Linked DNA regions of Homo sapiens: regions 2, 3 and 4 are each linked to region 1. The links come from fine-mapping of genetic effects on gene expression. A gene starts in region 1. Each other region holds a variant in brackets. All regions are shown on one strand. Distances are from middle to middle. Region 1 holds the start of RGL3 (ral guanine nucleotide dissociation stimulator like 3). Region 2 overlaps CNN1 (calponin 1). Region 3 has its middle 36 kb from the start of ZNF20. Region 4 holds the start of RAB3D (RAB3D, member RAS oncogene family).

Region 1 (5,146 bases):
TCGGGGACAACGGGCGAGGTTTGACGAGCCAGGGGTGAGCCCGAGCCACGAGGGAAGAAACCAGAAGAGGTGCAGGCGGGTCCTGTGAGGCTAGAGGACGCGGCTGGGGTATCCGGATGGGGAGAGGCCTAGTGGCAGGGCCCCAGAGACCAGGGGCGGACCTGAGTGATGAGGGGGTGAAGCTGGGTATCAAGGTGCCTGCTTAAGGAGGGATGGGAGTGGGCAGTGGTCTCCAGTTGGAACTAGGGCATATCTCGGAATGGGGTAGGGAGGAGGGGGAACGTGACTTCTCGGTGGCCCCTGGCCCCGCCCACCTTCCTCTCTCGCTTCCCATCCCCGCTTAGTTCCTCGCCAGCTTAGAGGGAAGGCTGCCCGAATACAACACCCGCATCGCCCTGCCCCTTGCCACTTCCAAGGACAAGTTTTTTGGTCAGTATGGGTGGGGGGATGAAGGGGTGCGGTTGGGGCCCCAAGCTGGGTAGCAGGAGGTTGTCAGATACCCTGTTCAGGGCCAAGGTGGGGGTGGAGTGGGGTGGTAAAGGGAAGGGGAGCCAGGGATGGGGACCTGGATCCCACATCGCTCCCTGCTCATCCCCCCACCCCCCTTAGACGAAGAGAGTGAGGAGGAGGACAACGAGGTAGTGACCCGCGCATCACTCAAGATCCGTTCCCAGAAATTAATCGAAAGTCACAAGAAGCACCGTCGCTCTCGGAGGTCCTAGACTCGTCCTGACACCCACCAGGCGGCCCCCTTCGGAGCCCCCGATCCCTCCGGGTCTAGCGCAGGCCCCACGGGGCCCCTTCAGGGGCTGAACGCGGCCCGGACCGGGAACGGAGGCGGCCAGCGGCGCCCGGAGGGGAGGAAGGGGCCGGGCCAGACGTTCCCACAGTAAATCTCCCCAGCTGGGTCCGCCCCGGCCTCAGAGTTGCGCAATAAATGTTACCGACCATGCCCCTGGGTATTCATCTGTTTTTGACCCTGCACCACCCAAGAGACGGCTGTCCCTGAAAACCCAGGGCCACAGACTGCCTCCTCCAACCTGGGTCATGATGACTCCCATCAGCTAGTGACGCAGATGGAGCTTAAAAATGGGAGATGGCCCGATGTAGTGGTTTTATGCCTGTAATCCCAGTATTTTGGGAGGCTGAGTTGGGAGGATCACTTGAGTCCAGGAGCTCCAGGCTGCAGTGAGCTATGATCGTGCTACTGCACTCCAGCCTGGGCCACAGAGCCAGACCCTGTCTCAATAAATAAAATAAGGGCGGGGTGCAGTGGCTCATTCATACCTATATTCCCAGCACTTTGGGAGGCTGAGCTGGGTGTGTCGCTTGAGCCCAGGGGTTCCAGACTAGCCTGGGCAACATGGTGAAAACCAGTTTTTACCAAAAAAAAAAAAAAAAAAAAAAAAAAAAAAAAAAAAGCTGAGCATGGTGGCATATGCCTGTAGTCCCAGCTACTTGGGAGACTGAGGCAGGAGAATGGATTGAACCCAGGAGGCGGAGATTGCAGTGAGCCAAGATCAAGCCACTGCACTGCAGCCTTGGCAACAGGAGTGAGACCCTGTCTCTAAAAAATAATAAGGCTGGGCGCCGTGGTTCATGCCTGTAATCCCAGCATTTTGGGAGGCTGAGGTGGGCGAATCTCTTGAGGCCAGGAGTTTGAGACCAGCCTGGCAAGTATGGCAAAACCCCGCCTCTACAAAAAATACAAAAATTAGCTGAGCATGGTGGCGGCACCTGTAATCCTAGCTACTTGGGAGGCTGAGGCACAAGAATCCTTTGAATCTGGGAGGCGGAGGTTGCAGTGAGTTAAGATCAAGCCACTGTACTCCAGCATGGGTGACAGAACGAGACTCCATCTCAAAATAATAGCAATAATAATAAAAAGTGGAAGATGCCCCCACACTTGATCAAGCTAGCCCCTTCCACTGGAGGACAGAGGACTCTGGTCTGGGGACACACACATGCCCCCACACAGGAGCTCCCCCACATCTGGGGATACAAAAAAGACCCCTTGGGGACAGATATGTCCTTTCTTCTGGGGACAGATTGATAGGCACCCAGCGGAAGAGCCAGGACCTCTCCTGGGCTGGCGCTGGGTCCGGCTGGAGGCACCCAGAGGCTGGGTCCGGCCTGCCCTGCCCCGCCCCGCCCCAGCAGCTCGGCCGCTCCGCCCCTCTGGCCTCAGCGCCCGGCCACTGCCCGCCGCCCGCCACCCGCCACCCGCCGGCCCTTCCGCCTCACTCAGCGGCGCCACTGAGAGGGACGGGCGCCGGCCATGGAGCGCACAGCAGGCAAAGAGCTGGCCCTGGTAAGGGGACAAGGGATCCCCGGACCCCGCATCCCTGGTGACCCGCAGGTCCAGAAACTCCAAGCGCCCGCCCGTCGGACGGTATCTGCTCCCAATCTGAACTTGCCCTGGAGTCCCCTCCTGGGGACTCGCGGCCCTTGACCCAGTGAAGCGACTGGTTCCTCTTAGGGATGGGGGCGCGAGTCTCTGAGCGCAGTCGGCAGAAAGAGCTAGAGACAGGTTCTATTAGACTGGGCCCTGGGACATCCCCAAATGCCACCCCATGTCCTCAGGACCTGGGAGGAGGGGACCCGCAGCGAGGAGGGGACTAGCCTGGGACCCCAGCCCTAGTCTCGCAGCTTCTGGCCGGGAAGGGGCGTGGGGATGCAGCAGGAGGACTCGGCCCGAGTCCGAGCGGCCAAGGAGGCTGAGGCCCCAGGACCTGTGCCCCTTTGGTGCCCTGAGTCCGCCTGTGCGTCCAGGCACCGCTGCAGGACTGGGGTGAAGAGACCGAGGACGGCGCGGTGTACAGTGTCTCCCTGCGGCGGCAGCGCAGTCAGCGCAGGAGCCCGGCGGAGGGCCCCGGGGGCAGCCAGGTGAGGAGGGGGTTTGGTGGGTGGCGCGGGGCCGGAAGCGACCAGTTGAGGGCGGAGCTGGAGAGCCGAGCACAGGCCGCCAGGTGCAGTGGGCGGAAGGAAGGGAGGGGCTCGGAGGCGACCAGATGAGGCGACCAGGTAGAAAGGGGACTGGGGGCGGCCAGGTAAGTGGGGGGAGATCCAGGGAATGGGGTGGGGCCAGGCGATGGCCGCGCAGTTCCCGAGAGGAGCCTAGGGACAACTTGGTAAGGACAGAACTGGACGGCAGAGTTGGGAAAGGCAGGTTTAGAGGGCCGGGGCTGGAAGGTGGAATGGGGTTGGTTTAGAAGTGGCTAGGTGAGGGCGGATGGGGCAGCCAGTGAAGCGCGACAGGAGGGCTGAGGGAAGCCCTGGGTGGAAAAGAGTGTGTGGGGCGGGGGCGGGGGGGTGGGGGGAGGGGACGGGAGGGGGAGGGGACGGGAGAGGGAGTAGGGGACAGGGCATGGGAGAGGGAGGGTTTCCAGGGCAAGTTGCAGGAGCTATTTGTGGATGGGGAGGAACAATAACTTCAAGCGGGCAGGGAGTGGGGCACACACCTATAATCCCTGCGCTTCGAGAGACCAAGGCAGAAGGCCAGGAATTGGAGACCAGCCTGGACAACACAGCAAGATTCTCTCTAATAAAAATAAAAATTAAAAAACTAGCTGTGCGTGATGATGCCCAGCAGTGGTCCCAGCTACTCAGGAGGCTGGGGCAGAGGGACCGCTTGAGTCTAGGACTTGGAGGCTGCAGTGAGCTATGATTGTGCCACTGCACCCCAGCCTGGGCAACAAAACAAGACCTGTTTCTAAAAAAAACAAACCAAAACAATAACTCCAAGAAGCCGGGAGACAGAGGAATCACATGAAAGAATGGTGCTACAGGCGGGGCGAGGTGGCTCACGCCTGTAATCCCAGCACTTTGGGAGGCCGAGGCAAGTGGATCATCAGGTCAGGAGTTCAAGACCAACCTGGCCAAGACGGTGAAACACCGTCTCTACTAAAAATACGAAAAAACTAGCTGGGCTTGGTGGCGGGTGCCTGTAATCCCAGATACTTGGGAGGCTGAGGCAGAGAATTGCTTGAACCCAGGAGGCGGAGGTTGCAGTGAGCCAAGATCACGCCACTGAACTCCAGCCTAGGTGACAGAGTGAGATTCTGTCTCAAAAAAAAAAAAAAAAAAGTGGTGCTAGGGGCTGGGCACGGTGGTTCACGCCTGTAATCCTAGCCCTTTGGGAGACTTTGGGAGGCCAAGGGGGGCAGATTACTTGAGGTCAGGAGTTCGAGACCAGTCTGACCAACATGGTGAAACCCTATCTCTACAAAAATACAAAAATTAGCTGGGCTTGGTGGTGTGCGCCTGTAGTTTCAGCTACTTGGAGGCTGAGGAAGGAGGATTGCTTGAACCCAGGAGGCAGAAGTTGAAGTGACCCAAGATCGTGCCACTGCACTCCAGCCTGGGCAACAGAGTGAGACTCTGTCTCAAAAAAAAAAACAAAAAAAAAAAGAGTGGTGCTAGTGATGAATGTGACTAGAGAAGGGGTGCTGTGAGGACCACTCCTGCTCTCTCATGGCCACCTCTCCCCTCCTGCAGGCTCCCAGCCCCATTGCCAATACCTTCCTCCACTATCGAACCAGCAAGGTGAGGGTGCTGAGGGCAGCGCGCCTGGAGCGGCTGGTGGGAGAGTTGGTGTTTGGAGACCGTGAGCAGGACCCCAGCTTCATGCCCGCCTTCCTGGCCACCTACCGGACCTTTGTACCCACTGCCTGCCTGCTGGGCTTTCTGCTGCCACCAATGCCACCGCCCCCACCTCCCGGGTCAGTAGCGAACCATAACCTCCGTATTCTCCACCCTAGAACCCCAACTGGGCACCCCCCTCCACCTCCTCAGGTGTGGAACCTGGAAACACCTCCCAGACCCAGAGCCCTCTTCCTAAGCCCCCTCTAGGTTCCCCCTTCTTCACCTGCTGGGGGGCCTCTTCCCAGGGTAGAGATCAAGAAGACAGCGGTACAAGATCTGAGCTTCAACAAGAACCTGAGGTGGGTCCTTCATCCAGATAGGGGAGTGCGGGGAGGGAAATCCAAGAGGTCAAAGGTTAGCAGTCGGACTGGGGTTTTGAAAATTGCAGGTTGGGTAATAAGAGACTGGGAGTCAGGTGGGGCGTGGTGGCTCATGCCTGTAATCCCAACACTTTGGGAGGCCGAGGCAGGTGGATCACTGGAGGTCAGGAGTTAGAGACCAT
Region 2 (5,146 bases), 130 kb before region 1:
GTGTGCCTAGAGGAATTCCAGACGCCCATAACGTGTATCCTTGGAAACCTGGGCTTTTTCCAGAGGGTGGGGAGGGGGCTGGAGTCCGGACCCTGCTCATCTGGCCCACTGTGTGCCCTGGTGCAGGGCCAAAGCCGTCCAGAGGAACAGGTGCCACCTAGTGATTTCTGTGGGGTGAGAAGATGCAGGGCAGGGTTCCAATGCCAATGATCGCCCTTGACCTAAGTGGCCCAGATCTGTCAGAACCCGTGGATGTGTACAGTGATTGGATAGACGCCTGCGAGGCGGCCAATCAGTAGCGACACAGAGGACCCGCCCCCTGAGCAGCCCCGCGTACTGTGGATCCAGCTGTTCGGTTCTGGTCCAGAGACATTCCAGGGGTCCAGGGTGTGGGTCCTGGGCTGTCACAGCCGTGTGTGTGTGTGTGTGTGTGTGTGTGTGTGTGTGTGTGTGTGTGTGTGTAGTGGGTGTGCGTGTGGGTGTGGGTGTGAGTGAGTGTGGGTGTGTGTGGCTGCACGTGTCACTGGGGTGGCCGTGAGTGTGTGCTCACAGGTACGCGGTGGTGTCGGGTTCCTGGGCCTGAGGGGCCTGAACTGATCTCACTTGGCTCCGAAAGCCTTTGCTGTGTTCCCTGCAGCCCCTGGCCCCCCAGCCTTGGGGCTCTGGCTCCCCCCGGCGGAATTGGGGGACTGTTTCCTGACATCCTGGACAAGGGAAGCCCACTAGAGGCTGGAACAGGACCTCTCCAGCCTCCTCACCAGCACCGTGCCCATCTCAACTGGACTTCCCGCTCTCCTTCTCCACCTTCTAGTGCCCGTGGCCGGGGATTCAAAGCCGCCGTTCCCCAGGTCCCTGGGCTGGGCCCTGACAGGGAGCCGCCCCCCTCCCCATGGTAACCAGGAAGCCCGTTTCATGTTCAGTTGCTTTTGTAGAGGAAGCAAGGGCTGGGATGGGGACAGCTGTCAATCACAAGCCCTTAAATAAAGCAGCCAGCGCACATCCCTTGCTGTCCGTGATGTCTTGGGTTCTGCGTCTGCCTGGTCACCAGAAGAAGGAGAGGGGACCTGAGGCTCTGACGTTCGGGAGGTGGCCTGGTGGCCCATGTGACCAGCCCTTCAAACCACCCAGCGTTTTATTCAGTCAGTAAGCATTCAGGGTGGTGGAGCAGGCAGACATCTGGCCAGGTGTTTACAGCAGTCACAATAGGAAATGGGGGAGGTGAGACAGAACAGGTGGTCAGAGGAGGCTTCTGGGAGGGGCAGGCTGAGACAGTGACACCGTAGGGCCACCTCTAGCCAGACGCTGACCTCTGGCCTTCCTGCGTCGCCCCAGTGTCCTGACAGCCACTTTGTGGGGCAGGTGCCAAGCTAACCCCAAGTTCAAAGATGAGGAAACAGAGGCTAGAGGTGAAGGAGGTCACTGGCCCAAGACCCTACAGCCAGAAAGTGGCACAGGGGGGATTTGAACCCAGGAAACGAGGCTCCACAGCTTACAGTCTGACTTCTTGTGAGCCCAGAGTCCAGGCTGAGGGAACAGCTTACAGGCCGTTCTGGAGGTAGTGAGTGGAAGAGGGACACGGGAGGGAAACATGAAAGGGGCCTTTATTCAAGGGTGGTGAGGACTCTCAGAAGGCTGGTGTTGGGGCGGGATGTGTGTGGCCGATGGGGAGCACCTGAGGGCTGATGTCCCCTTAGCTGGTCGCACCGGTGACAAGGACCACAACACCCAGCAACCTGGGGCAGTGCCAGACCCTCCACCTGGCCTCATGAGCCCGGGTGGCAGGTGACCTGTGCTTCAGAGTCCTCGTTGCTACAGTGCAGGGGATGAAAGCACCTTCTTCCCGGAGCCATGCTGAGGATGGAAGTGCCAGGCATGGTTTGAGCGGCTCTGGGGCCCACCCAGGGCACTGACGGATGTGAACAGCGGGGGGAGACATTGAGCTGGCCCGGAAGCCCTGGCTGCCAGACTGGGCTGCTGGGTCTGGCCTGTGCACCCCCTCAGGCCCACTCTGCCATGACATGTCTTCCCTGGTTATCCCGCCACCTCCAAGATCCCAGGTAAGGTCTGCTAGCCCTGGCAGGAGCCGGCACACATGCGCAGAGTGGTGGACAGGCACCTAGGTTTAGGGTGATGGCCCTCTGGGATCCAGCAAAAAGGGGGCTCATTCCTCTGGCACCCGAGGCCCTTCCTGCCGCCCGCCCACCCCAGCCTCACAGGCTAAGTGCTAATATGGTGCTGTTTTCCCGAGGAGGCAGGGCCCTGGGCCAGGCCCGGATCCTCCTCAGCATAGCTTCCCCGCGCCGGCCCAGGGGGAGCAGGACTTGCGGTAGCCAGGCCAAAAGCGCCTGGAATCCGGTTTACGAGGCCCCAGGGGCTGCGTGCGTCTGTGCGCGGGTCTTCTGGTGTCTGCCTCCGCAGGTCTCCACGTTCCAGCCTCAACTCCTGCCCTCCCTGGGGAGAAGACAGCTCCGTGCCGCGCTCCTCGCTTCTCTGCCTCCTCTCCTCCTTGGAATCCTGATGGTTGGGGACCTCTCCCTCCTCCCGGGGATAACAGGGTCCCCTCTGAAATGTGAGGAGGTTGAGGCCCTGGACACAGCCTTTTAGAGTCCCGGGTTGGCAGGCTCAGCCTTAAGACGGCTGAGAGCGGGCGGGGCGCACAGAATTAACCGTGCCCTATGGTGCCCTGTGCCAGTCAGTAAAGGGCCATTGCCTTGGCTCAGAAGTGCCCCTCTCCCTGTCCCCTTTCCCCTCCCCACAGTCTGGGGCTAAAGGGTTCACCCTGCCCACAGGGCCCACCAGGACCCCTACTTGTCATCCTTTCTCTATTGATGCCTGGT[C/T]TTTACCAGCGATTAAACATGTAGAACATCACCCCATCTGGGGGTGTCATTTCATGACCACAAGAGGCTTACTGTCCCCATTATTTTGATGGGAAAACAGGTCTAGGGAGGGAAAGTGATTGCCCGAGGTCATCCAGGCAGCTGCTCTGTGATTCACATGCCATTTAGCCTGTCCCAGTACTCAGGCTCTTTGTCACCACCATCCACAAGCCTCTGGGAGAGCAGTGTGGGTCGTGTGTGTGTGTGTGTGTGTGTGTGTGTGTGTGTGTGCACGCGCGCGCGCATTGGCTCTCTGGCTGTGCCTTTTTTTTTTTTTTTTTTTTTTGAGATGGAGTCTTGCTCTGTTGCCCAGGCTGGAATGCAGTGGCGCCATCTCAGCTCACTACAGCCTAGATCTCCAGGGCTCAAGTGATTCTCCTACCTCAGCCTCCCAAGTAGCCGGGACTACAGGCATGCGCCACCACACCCTGCTAATTTTTGTATTTTTAGTAGAAACAAGGTTTCACCATGTTGGCCAGTCTGGTCTCGAACTCCTGACCTCAAGTGATCCTCCCATCTCAGCCTCCCAAAGTGCTGGGATTACCGGCATGAGCCACTGTGCCCGGCTGGCTATGCCTTTTTTACATGTCGTAGGGAGTGTGTACTGCCTGTGTGTGCATATCTGTGTGTGAAAGGGGGGAGTGTGTGTGTGTGTGTGGACTTTGCATGTGAGTGTGATGGGGTGCCTGTCCTGTGTCTAGCTGAGTGGCTACAGTGAGGTGTGTGTCTTAGGGTGCGTGTGAGTGTGTATGTACGTCTTAGGGTGCATGTGGGCATGTGTGTCCGTGCAGATGTGTGTGCGGGATATGGCGCATATCTAAAACAGAGCAGCTCTGAGGCCTCAGGAGATTTTACAGCCATTTATTGTGCTCCAGTGAAATAGAAAAAAAAGAAAGTGCTCTCATTACAAACGCCACTGTCACATCCACATAGTATGCCAGTCGCTGCAAACCAAACCGCGTGTGTCCGCTGGGTCTCTGGGCATGCAGTTTGCTCCCACTGCGGGAATGGGGTGGGGGCAGGCCGAGCCTGGGCTCTGGGGGCTTTGCTGGGGGAGCTTCTGGTCCTGGGGGTACCCACTTGTGAGGGAGTGGGGGGACAGCTGGAATAGCGTTGCTCAGTGCGTCCTTTGGGCGCTGTTGGGGACACCCGGCTCTATGTTGGACCCTGTAGCACTACAGAGCGGAGGGTCCCCTTCCCCCCAATGGGCCCCCCGCCAGTCTGCTCTCTCCAAACTCTAACCCTGTAGAGGTTGAGTTCTACAGGGGCTGGAGGATGCCATGCAGGGAGAGGGGGTCGGCTGGGCCTGGCTGGGTCCAGCCAAGAGCAGCAGCAGCCTCCCTTGGGGGGAAAACAGGGAAGGCCTTGTGGCCCTAGGCGGAATTGTAGTAGTTGTGTGCGTGGTGGTTGTGGGCGGGCTCACCCAGCTCTGGGTACTCGGGAGTCAGACAGTACTTGGGGTCGTAGACCTGGCGTGGCAGCCCATACACCGTCATGCCCCGCTGCGAGGCGCCCTTGTTGCTGCCCATCTGCAGGCTGACATTGAGCGTGTCGCAGTGCTCCATGCCCAGCCCCGGCTCGAAGATCTGCCGCTTGGTCCCTGGCGCAGTCATGCCAGCCTGCGAAGGGTGGTGTGGTCAGGCCGTGGGGTGGCCAGGGTCCTGGGCCTTGACGGCGTGTCCCGGGGGCCCCCACTCACCTGGCTGGCTCCTTTGTTGGTGCCCATCTGCAGGCTGATGGTCGCCTGGTCCAGAGGCTGGTCTGTGCCCAGCTTGGGGTCGTAGAGGTGGCGCCGGGTGCCATAGGCCGTCATGCCCTGCTGGCTGGCAAACTTGTTGGTGCCCATCTAGGAAGCCAGAAGGAGAATCACACCAATAATTACAGACCTCATCATGGGCCATGAGGCATAGCTGATGGGAGAGGATGAGGCGCCGCTTTATCATTTTTTTCAATTTTTATTTTATTTTATTTATTTTTTTTTGAGACGGAGTCTTGCTCTGTTGCCCAGGCTGGAGTGCAGTGACATGATCTCAGCTCACTGAAATCTCCATCTTGCACATTCAAGCAATTCTCCTGCCTCAGCCTCCGGAGTAGCTGGGATCACAGGTGGGCATCACCATGCCCGGATAATTTTTTGTATTTTTAGTAGAAATGGGGTTTCACCATGTTGGCCACGCTGGTCTCGAACTCCTGACCTCAGGTGATCCACCCACCTCACCCTCCCAAAGTGCTGGGATTACAGGGGTGAGCCACTGTGCCTGGCCCATTTT
Region 3 (5,146 bases), 680 kb before region 1:
ATGTCTTCCTGGTGTGGTGTCCTTTGAAACACAAAAAAGTTTAAAATTTCAATGCAGTCTCAATTACATACTTTTTCTTTGTTCCTAGTGCTTGTATTGTCATATCATAGAATCTTTCCTAAATCCATGATCACGAATATTTTTGAATGGCACACTGTAGCATCAAGAGGGTAAGATTTTCCTTTGTTCCCGTGGGAGGATGAGAATGTGGTATTTGAATAATTCTGCAGGCTGACATAGAAATGAAACCCACTATACACTGGAGACTAAAACTATATCAATTTTATATACTATAATGTCATAATTCATTAAGTTGTTTACTATAATGCCATTTATATACAACAGCTATATACCACATTACAAGTTATATATAATATTTATGTTATCTATCATAACTAGACTATATACTATATATACTTTATGTGTGCATGTATATAAATGTGTATATATATGCATATTATAATGCTAGACTATAATACTATACATGAATATCTCTTTAAATGTTAACACACAAAGCCGGAGCAATATAATTGCAAAGAGAATCCACCCATATATGACAACATCTGTACTCCATGACAAAGTGGAATTTAATTCATGGAAGCAACATTGCTTACATTTCAAAAATCAACTTATGCAATACACAGTAGTTACAGAATCAACATCAAAAACCACAATCTAAACACATGCAAAAAAAAAGTGACAAACCTCAACACTCCTTCAAAATAGAAATAATCAGGAATACGAGGGAACTTCTACAACCTACTATAAAATATGTATAAAGGCTGGGCACAGTGTCTCACGCCTGTAATCCCAGCACTTTGGGAGGCTGAGGCAAGCGGATCACCTGAGGTCAAGTGCTCGAGACCAGCCTGACCAACATGGTGAAACCCCATCTCTAGTAAAAATACATAATTAGCTGGGCATGGTGGCTCATGCCTGTAATCCCAGCTACTTGGGAGGCTGAGGCAGGAGAATTGCTTGAACCCGGGAGGCAGAGGTTGCAGTGAGCCAAGATGGCGCCACTGCACTCCAGCCTGGGCAACAAGAGTGAAACTTCGTCTCAAATAAATAAATAAATAAATAAATAAATAAAATATGTATAAAAATGCATAGTTACCATCATATTTGGATGATCCACTGACAGTTAACAAAACTCAATATAACTAAGCAAACCTATAAACTAATTATTTTCTCCAAATTGTTAAGCCAACAAAGGCAAGCACTAAAGAAAGATTTTAAAAAATAAAAGGAACTCAGCAAAACCAAACCCTGCCTGTTTACCAAAAACATCACCAAAAACTGGCACTGCCTGCCCAGTGACATGTTTAATGGTGCCAGTATCTTGACTGTACAGGCATAGCATAATCATTTGTTCCCGAAACAGAGACTTGCAAGACTGGTCACATGAGGGTTTAGCTGTCTCTTAATCAGTGCAATTGACCTATCTGTGAAGAGGCAGAAATACTTAAATATGATGAGAAGACTCTACGGAACTTAAATTTATTAGTCCATATATCCAATAATTAACCTAACTTAACAGGTATTAACATTGTATCCAATGAACTAAAAATTTTAGTTGAGGTGACCTCAGAGCAAAATATAACCTCAAAATGATTTTGACTAAGACGTACTAGTCAAAGTAAACTAATCCTTCTTCTTAACAATAAGTTTATAATTAACCTTCTCCTACTTATTTCCCACCATTCTCACTACAGCAATCTTAACATTTGTTGAATGAATAGTTTAGGTTACATACAACTCTGTAAGGGACCTAACATCATAGGCTCATATGGATTATTCCAACCTTTTGCCAAAGCAATAAAGCTGCTCATTAAAGAACCACTACAGGCTGGGCATGGTGGCTCACGCCTGTAATCCCAGCACTTTGGGAGGCTGAGGTGGGCAGATCATCTGAAGTAAGGAGTTTGAGACCACCCTGAACAACATGGAGAAACCCTGTCTCTACTAAAAACACAGAATTAGCCAGGCGTGGTGGCACATGCCTGTAATCCCAGCTACTGGGGAGACTGAGCAGGAGAATCACTTTATAAAAAGTAAAGTAGAGGTTCCTCTTCAAAGACTTTCCTCCCCATCTAATTAAATTATAACTTCTCTTAAAAACAAAATTTATTCAAAATCCTATACTAACATTCTTAAATATATACTAGCTGTAATAAAAAAAACATCAATATACTTTATGTTGGGAGCAGGCCCCCCAAAATCTGGCCATAAACTGGCCCCAAAACTGGCCATAAACAAAATCTCTGCAACACTGTAACATGTTCATAATGGCCCTAACGCCCACACTGGAAGGTTGTGGGTTTACTGGAATGAGGGCAAGGAACGCCTGGCCCACCCAGGGCGGAAAACCGCTTAAAGGCATTCTTAAGCCACAAATAACAGCATGAGCTATCTGTGCCTTAAGGACATGCTCCTGCTGCAGTTAACTAGCCCAACCTATTCCTTTAATTTGGCCCATCCCTTTGTTTCCCATAATGGATATTTTTAGTTAATTTAATATCTATAGAAACAATGCTAATGACTGGTTTGCTGTTAATAAATATGTGGGTAAATCTCTGTTTGGGGCTCTCACCTCTGAAGGCTGTGAGACCCCTGATTTCCCACTTCACACCTCTATATTTCGGTGTGTGTGGTGTCTTTAATTCCTCTAGCGCCGCTGGGTTAGGGTCTCCCCGACTGAGCTGGTCTTGGCAAGTGGCGTCCATTCATGGGGGCTTGAATGCAGGTTGAAGGGTCGCCAGAGCAATGGTTGGAACGGAAAACTAGCTGGAGGACACCCGAGTACTCTTAAAGCAATCCCCATGGTGAGTAAGAAGGGGAGCTCGGAAGCCTCAGGGTAACAATGGGACAAGTATGGGGTCTGGTTCGTTTCACCTTGGAACTTCTTCACACTGATGATGAGGAGGAATGAGTGAATAATGAAGTAACAGAAGAGGTTACAGACGAGGTTTATTTGCCAGTTAAAGCTAAAGCAGGAAAGGAG[G/A]GAGAGATTCATCCCTACCCTTCTGTACCCCCTCCTTATTATTTTCAAGAAAAAGACCCTCCAGATCTTTCTTTTCTGGAGGACACTGGGCGAAAAGTAGTTGCCCCAGTGACTGTTTGAGCAGCGCCGAGTGACCACTCTTAGTTCTATTCAGGCAGGAATTCAGCAAGCTAGAGGAGAGGGTGATACAGAGGCTTGGCAGTTCCCTGTTAGAATGAATACACCCCCCAAGATCAACAGGGAAATATTACAGCTACATTTGAGCCTTTTCCTTTTAAATTACTCAAAGAATTTTAAAAAGCTATACATCAGTATGGACCAGGTTCTCCTTTTATAATGGGACTGTTAAAGAATGTTGCTGTTTCCAGTTGGATGATACCTACTGACTGGGATGCTCTTACTCGAGCTTGTCTAACTCCTGCTCGGTTCTTAAAATTTAAAATTTGGTGGGCAGATGAAGCTTCCATTCAGGCTGCTCGCAATGCCCAGGCCCAAACTCAAATTAATGTAACTGCAGACCAACTTTTGGGGGTTGGAGGCTGGGCTGGTTTAGATGCACAACTGGTCATGCGGGATGATGCCATAGAACAGCTTAGAGGAGTGTGCATTAGAGCTTGGGAAAAAATCACTTCAGGTAGAGAACAATACCCTTCCTTTAGTGCTATAAAACAGGGATCCAAAGAACCATACGTTGACTTTATAGCTCAGTTACAGGAGTCTCTTAAAAAGATGATTGCAGATTTGGCTGCTCAGGATATAGTGTTGCAGTTATTAGCTTTCGACAATGCTAATCCCGATTGCCAGGCTGCTCTGTGACCTATCAGAGGGAAAGCACATTTAGTTGATTTTATCAAGGCCTGTGATGATATCAGAGATAATCTACATAAAGCTACTTTGTTGGCATAGGCAATGGCAGGACTGAGAGTGGATAAAGGAAATACTCCACTTCCTGGAGCTTGTTTTAACTGTGGGAAGCATGGTCATACTAAAAAAGAATGTAGAAAAAAATCAGCGAGTCAGGCCGCCAGATGGGGAGAAAAGAAAACTGCTGATTCTGAAATATGTCCAAAATGTAAAAAAGGAAAACATTGGGTTAACCAATGTCATCCTAAGTTTGATAAAGAAGGGAACCCGATTTCGGGAAACGCCATGAGGGCCCCATTCTAAACCGGGGCATTTCTAGCTCAGGCCATTCCCTCACCCCTGTACAATGTCTGTCCACCCCCCCACAGCCAGTAGTGCTGCAGTAGATTTATGCTGCACAAAAGCTGTGAGCCTTCTGCCTGGGGAACCCCCGCAAAAGGTCCCAACAGGAGTCTGCGGACCCTTGCCAGCAGGGACAATAGGATTACTTTTAGGAAGGTCTAGTTTAAGTTTAAAAGACGTACAAATACATACAGGAGACACTGATTCAGATTATAATGGGAAATTCAAATTGTTGTATCTACTTCTGTTCCCTGGAAAGCAGAGCCAGGAGAGCGCACATAGCACAGCTCCTGATTGTGTCGTATGTGGAAATGGGGAAAAGTGAAATTAAACGAACAGGAGGATTTGGAAGCACAAATAAACAAGGCAAAGCAGCTTATTGGGTAAATCAAATTACTGATAAACATCCTACCTGTGAAAATAACTATTCAGGGAAAGAAATTTAAAGGTTTGGTAGATACAGGAGCAGACATTTCAGTCATTTCTCTACAGCACTGGCCGTCCACGTGGCCAATTCAACCTGCTCAATTTAACATAGTTGGAGTTGGTAAAGCCCCTAAAGTATATCAAAGTAGTTATATTTTGCATTGTGAAGGGCCTGATGGACAACCTGGTACTATTCAACCAATTATAACTTCTGTACCTGTAAATTTATGGGGGAGAGATTTATGACAATGGGGAGCACAAGTTCTAATTCCAGAACAATTATATAGCCCTCAAAGTCAACATACAATGCATGAAATGGGGTATGTCCCTGGTATGGGACTAGAAAAAAATTTGCAAGGTTTGAAAGAACTGCTTCAAGCAGAAAGAAAGTTCCTGCCAAAGATTAGGGTATTATTTTTGATGGTGGCCATTGTCAAGCCTCCAGAACCTATACCTTTAAAATGGTTAACAGATAAGCCAATTTGGTAGAACAATGGCCGCTAAGTAAAG
Region 4 (5,146 bases), 79 kb after region 1:
GTAGAGCCAAGAGCCTCAGTTTCCCCATTCATGAAGCATGATGGTTTGGAGTGTCAGCCATTTTATCCTGTAAGCCTCTCCTATAATGATGCCCATTTATTGAGCACCTGCTGTATACCAGACATGTTGTTAACCACTGACATATCATGTATTATTTGTTTTGTTTTGTTTTGTTTTGTTCTGTTTTGAGACGGAGTTTCACTCTTGTTGTCCAGGCTGGAGTGCAGTGGTGCGATCTCAGCTCCCTACAACCTCTGCCTCTGGGTTCAAGCGATTCTCCTGCCTCAGCCTCCTGAGTAGATGGGATTACAGGCATCCGCCACCATGCCTGGCTAATTTTTTGTATTTTTACTAGAGACAGGGTTTCTCCATGTTGGTCAGGCTGGTCTTGAACTCCCGACCTCAGGTGATCCACCCGCCTTGGCCTCTCAAAGTGCTAGGATTACAGGCATGAGCCACCATGCCTGGCTGTTTTGTCTTTTTTTTTTTTTTTTTTTTTGAGACAGAGTCTTGCTCTGTTGCCCAGGCTGGAGTGCAATGGCATGACCTTGGCTCACTGCAATCTCCGCCTCCCGGGTTCAAGCGATTATTCTGCCTCAGCTTCCTGAGTAGCTGGGATTACAGACACCTGCCACCACGCCCATCTAATTTTTGTTATTTTTAGTAGAGACGGAGTTTCACTGTGCTGGCCAGGCTGGCCTTGAATTCCCGACCTGAGGCCATCTGCTCGCTTCGGCCTCCCAAAGTGCTGGGATTACAGGCGTGAGCCACCACGCCCAGCCTGTTTTGTCTTGTTTTTGACAGGGTCTTGCTCTGTCACCCAAGCTGGAGTGAAGTGGCGTGATGATAGCTCATTGCAGCCTCCAACTCCTGGACTCAAGCAATCCTCCCACCTCAGCCTCCAAAGTAGCTCGGACTACGGGCGCCAGCCACCAGGCCCAGATGGTTCTGATCCTAGAGGACAATCATATTTCCCACCCTACTGACATTGGGGGTGGCCATGTGACTTGCTTTGGCCAATGAAATGTGAGCAGAGGTGGCATGTGTCCCTTCCAAGGAGAAGTATTACAAAACAGTACATAATTTGCTGCATTTTCACTTCACAAAACAACCATCATGGGAACCAAACCTTAGCTGTTGGGGCCGTGAAGTCTTTGGGAGTGCTTGTTACTAAGCATAACCCAGCCCTTCCTAACTAATGCACTTCATCCTCATTCATCCACGTGGCAGCTCTTGAGGCAGCTACTTTTGTTCCCACGAGGCAGTGGGGGCTCAGAGAAGTTCAGCAAATTGAGTAAGGTGGAATTGCTGGGATTCCAACACCAGCAAAACCTGGGTATTTCACAAAGGGATCCAACCCACTTTAACTTTCTTTATTTAGAGATAAAGTCTTGCCCTGTCACCTAGGCTGGAGTGCAGTGGCACAGTCATAACCTACTGAAGCCTCTCTCTCTCCCAGGCTCAAGCAATCCCCCTGCCTCAGCCTCCGGAGTAGCTAAGACTACATGTATGTGCCCCCATGGTCAGCTAATTTTTTTTTCTTTTTTCTTTTTTTCTTTTTCTTTTTTTTTTTTTTTTTTTTTTTGTGGCCAGCTAATTTTCAAAAAAATTTTTTGTAGAGTTGGGATCTCTATGTTGCCTAGGCTGGCCTTGAACTCCTGAGCTCAAGGAATCCTCCTGCCTCAGCCTCCCAAAGGGCTGGGATTACAGGCATCAGACACTGTGCCCAGCCTCATTTATTTTTTAATTTTTTTTTTTTTTTTTTTGAGACAGAGTCTCACTCCATCGTCTAGGCTGGAGTGCAGTGGCGCGATCTCGGCTCACTGCAACCTCCACCTCCTGGGTTCAAGCGATTCTCCTGCCTCAGCCTCCCAAGTAGTTGGGATTACAGGTGTGCACCACCATGCTCGGCTAATTTTTGTATATTTATTTATTTATTTGAGACAGAGTTTCGCTCTTTTTGCCCAGGCTGGAGTGCAGTGGCGTGATCTCGGCTCACTGCAACCTCCGCCTTCCGGGTTCAAGCAATTCTCCTGCCTCAGCTTCCAGAGTAACTGGGATTACAGGCATGCGTCACCACGCCTGGCTAATTTTGTATTTTTTAGTAGAGACAGGGTTTCTTCACGTTGGCCAGGCTAGTCTCGAACTCC[C/T]GACCTCAGGTGATCTGCCCACCTCGGCCTCCCAAAGTGCTGAGATTACAGGTGTGAGCCACCGTGCCCAGCCCCTAATATTTGTATTTTTTTTTTTTTTTTTTTAGTAGAGATGAGGTTTCACCATGTTGGCCAGGCTGGTCTTAAATTCCTGACCTCAAGTGATCCGCCTGCCTTGGCCTCCCAAAGTACTGGGATTACAGGCATAAGCCACCGCGCCCAGCTCTCGTTTATTTTTATTTATTTGAAACAGGGTCTTGCTCTGTTGCCCAGGCTGGAGTGCTGTGGTGCAATCAAGGCTCACTGCAGCCTCGATGTCTCCAGCAATCCTCCTGCCTCAGCCTCCCAAGTAGCTGGGGTTACAGACGCACGCCACCACACCTGGCTAATTTTTGTTATTTTTAGTAGAGATGAGGTCTCCTTACGATGCCCAAGCTGGTCTCAAACTCCTGGCCTCAAGTGATTCTCCTGCCTCGGCCTCCCAAACTGCTGTAATTACAGGCCACCGCGCCTGGCCTAGCCTACTTTAAGGCCGGCACTGCACTTGACAAACACTAACTCAGATCAGAATCCTCCCACAACTCTGTGAGGTTGGGTACTCTCGCTATGAGCTACTTGACGGATGGGGAAACTGAGGCTCAAAGAGGTTAAGTAACGCGTCCAAAGCCACAAGACTAGAAAGTGGTGGAGCTGGGACTCGAACCAGGCCCAAGACTCTATGCTTTTAACAGCCGTGCGTATAGTAGAAGCTCTTTACAAGCAGCTGGGAAAATGAGATGTTGCTTGGCTAGGACGGGCTCTAGACGCTTGGTGCAGCTTCCAGCCCCTCCCACCCGCTCTCTGAAAGCCCCGCCCAAGACTCGGCCCCTCTTCGTCCTCCCCCATCCCCCGCTCCGGGAACGGCCCTTCCTCCGCCTTCTGGGCGGAGCCCGCGCGGGATCCGGGTGGCTGCAGGCTGCTGGCTTCTGCGGCTGCGGGGTCGGGGTCGCGGCCAGGGCCAAGCCGCAGCGAGTTCACAGGCGGAACCCCTGCAGGCGGCGCCCCCTACGCGAGGTCACCCCTGGGAAGGAGCGCAGCCCACCCGGCCCCTCCGCATCCGAGCAGGTCTGTGGGGTACGGGGGTTTGGGAGGAAGGTAGGGGGTCTGGGGAACAAAGGCGGGGCTGCGGGGAACGCCTCTGCCCTCGCCCCCACCCAGCTGGGCACTTGGGAAGCGCTGATGGGGCGCGGGCGGGGCAGAGAGCCCAGCTGGGGACAGGCGTTGGGACCATATGGTGATGGGGGAAACTCCTGAGTCCACCTGCATTGGCTGGGGCGCCCCAAATCTAGTGAAGGGGAACAGAGGCGAGCCCTCCGGGGCCAGGCTTGAGGGAGGGTCGGCAGATGGTTAGAAAGAGGCGGGACCGACTGACACAGGTGAGCTAAGGCTGGGGGAGGTGGGGGCCCCAGCCTTGCGGCCCTGCCCTGCGTGGGGAAAGGTTTCCTGCCTCTTCTCTTCCCCTCCTTAAACTCGTTCTCCTGGAACACGGGGTGGGGCCGGTTGGGTCCTGGTTTAAAATGGAAAAAAGCCCCAAAGGCAGTTGAGAAATAGCTGTGCCAGGGCTGTCTCTGCCTCTGCCCCGCCTGCATCCAGGCCTTCTGCAGCCTCTCCGTGCGGTTCCCGCAGCGGCCATAGACAGCTGGGGAAACTGAGGCCTGGGAGAGGTTATGAGGGTTGAGGGAGCACCTTGGACTCGGATGAAGCAGCATGTTGGAGTGTGGGCAGATTCAAGGAGCCTAGCCGTGGGACAGATTGCCTGGAAAGACCAAGGGTGGGCGGCAGTGGTCGTGGTGGTGGGGTTGTGTTAATTAAGTGGCTGGGATCGTTTCCTTGGGTATAAGGACTCTCACTCCTGCCTCCGTGGACTGGGGCTGGAGTGAGTCAGCCTTGGGCAGAAGGAGACAGGCCTGGCCCCTTTGACAAATAGAAAATAGCAGTACCCATTTAGGGGGTAGAACTGGACTCTAAACCTGGGCCCTGTACATAGAAAACCCCTTCCCCTTGGAACTCAGAGAAGGGGTTGTATTTGGCATGAGTTGGTGGGCGGCAGGCGCCCCAGTGGCTGACACCTGCCAAAGTCAACACCCAAGCCTTAATCAGGGGCTCTATCCAGCTTATCCAGCTGGCAGGTCCTCCCCCCACCCCACCCCAGCTTACACCTGGGCCACACCGGCTGCACACGCTGGGGCGAAGTCCACACCTGTGCCTTCTCCAGAATCTAGTTCTGCAGGGGCCAGAGCCCCTTACCCTCGGCCTTGCACTTGAACCCTTTGCTAGGCCTCTGGGTTTCCAGATAGGAAAGGTCTCCCCACCCTCCACCCCAATACAGACTCAGTTACGCCACAGGGTGTGAAGATTAAACAGCAGTCACATTTTTTGTGCCCCAGCTCTATACCAGGCACTGTCTAATGACCGTTACGTGTGTTAATACCTTCCCACTGGAAGGAACGTGACCACCCGAGGATGGACTTTTTCTTGTCCTATTCACAGCTGCATTTCCACAGAGAACAGGGCCCGGCAGAGAGTAAGCATTTGTTGAATGAATAAAGAAACACATTTTAGGTCGGGCGTGGTGGCTCATGCCTGTAATCCTAGCACATTGGAAGGCTGAGGCAGGAGGATTGCTTGAGCAGAGGAGTTTGAAACCAGCATGGGCAACATAATGAGACCCCATCTCTACAAAAAAATTTTTTTTAAATTAGCCTGATGTGGTGGCATGTCTGTAGTCCCAGCTACTTGGGAGGCTGAGGCAGGAGGATCACTCGAGCCCAGGAGGTCAAGACTGCAGTGAGCTATGATCACGCCACTGCGCTCCAGCCTCAGGCAACAGAGCGAGATCTTGTCTCTAAAAAAAAAAAAAAAGAAAGAAAGAAACTCATTTTAGGCTCACAACCAACTACTCTTTCAGGAAGGGACTGTGACAAACATCCCATTTTTTAGAAGAGGACACTGAGGTC

The links. PIP is the estimated chance that this variant, and not a neighbour inherited with it, causes the effect.
Region 2: its variant is the best candidate, but not a certain one, in a credible set for the expression of RGL3 in whole blood (INTERVAL, PIP 0.74).
Region 3: its variant is the best candidate, but not a certain one, in a credible set for the expression of RGL3 in ovary (GTEx, PIP 0.60).
Region 4: its variant is the best candidate, but not a certain one, in a credible set for the expression of RGL3 in whole blood (TOPMed, PIP 0.62).

Annotation. Positions count from the first base shown.
Region 1 is chr19:11,416,411-11,421,556 of GRCh38, reverse strand. It overlaps RGL3 (ral guanine nucleotide dissociation stimulator like 3), which reads left to right and starts at 2,243. Exons shown (of 19, transcript NM_001035223.4): 1 at 2,243-2,311; 2 at 2,773-2,886; 3 at 4,498-4,721; 4 at 4,890-4,943. The coding sequence starts at 2,279. ODAD3 (outer dynein arm docking complex subunit 3) reads left to right here. Exons shown (of 13, transcript NM_145045.5): 12 at 345-429; 13 at 610-952. The coding sequence ends at 722. RefSeq lists an enhancer at 134-183.
Region 2 is chr19:11,548,899-11,554,044 of GRCh38, reverse strand. It overlaps CNN1 (calponin 1), which reads right to left. Exons shown (of 7, transcript NM_001299.6): 6 at 4,576-4,722; 7 at 3,722-4,495. The coding sequence ends at 4,250. It overlaps ELOF1 (elongation factor 1), which reads left to right. Exons shown (of 4, transcript NM_032377.4): 3 at 1-34; 4 at 235-999. The coding sequence ends at 299. Among named protein-coding and RNA genes, the nearest start is that of ELOF1, 7.8 kb to the left of the region's middle. RefSeq lists enhancers at 1,278-1,397, 1,817-2,111, 1,481-2,452. The variant C/T (reference allele first, on the strand shown) is at 2,838.
Region 3 is chr19:12,101,345-12,106,490 of GRCh38, reverse strand. It overlaps the pseudogene ZNF788P. Among named protein-coding and RNA genes, the nearest start is that of ZNF20, 36 kb to the left of the region's middle. The variant G/A (reference allele first, on the strand shown) is at 3,005.
Region 4 is chr19:11,337,577-11,342,722 of GRCh38, reverse strand. It overlaps RAB3D (RAB3D, member RAS oncogene family), which reads left to right and starts at 3,066. Exons shown (of 5, transcript NM_004283.4): 1 at 3,066-3,254. RefSeq lists a silencer at 3,024-3,283. The variant C/T (reference allele first, on the strand shown) is at 2,151.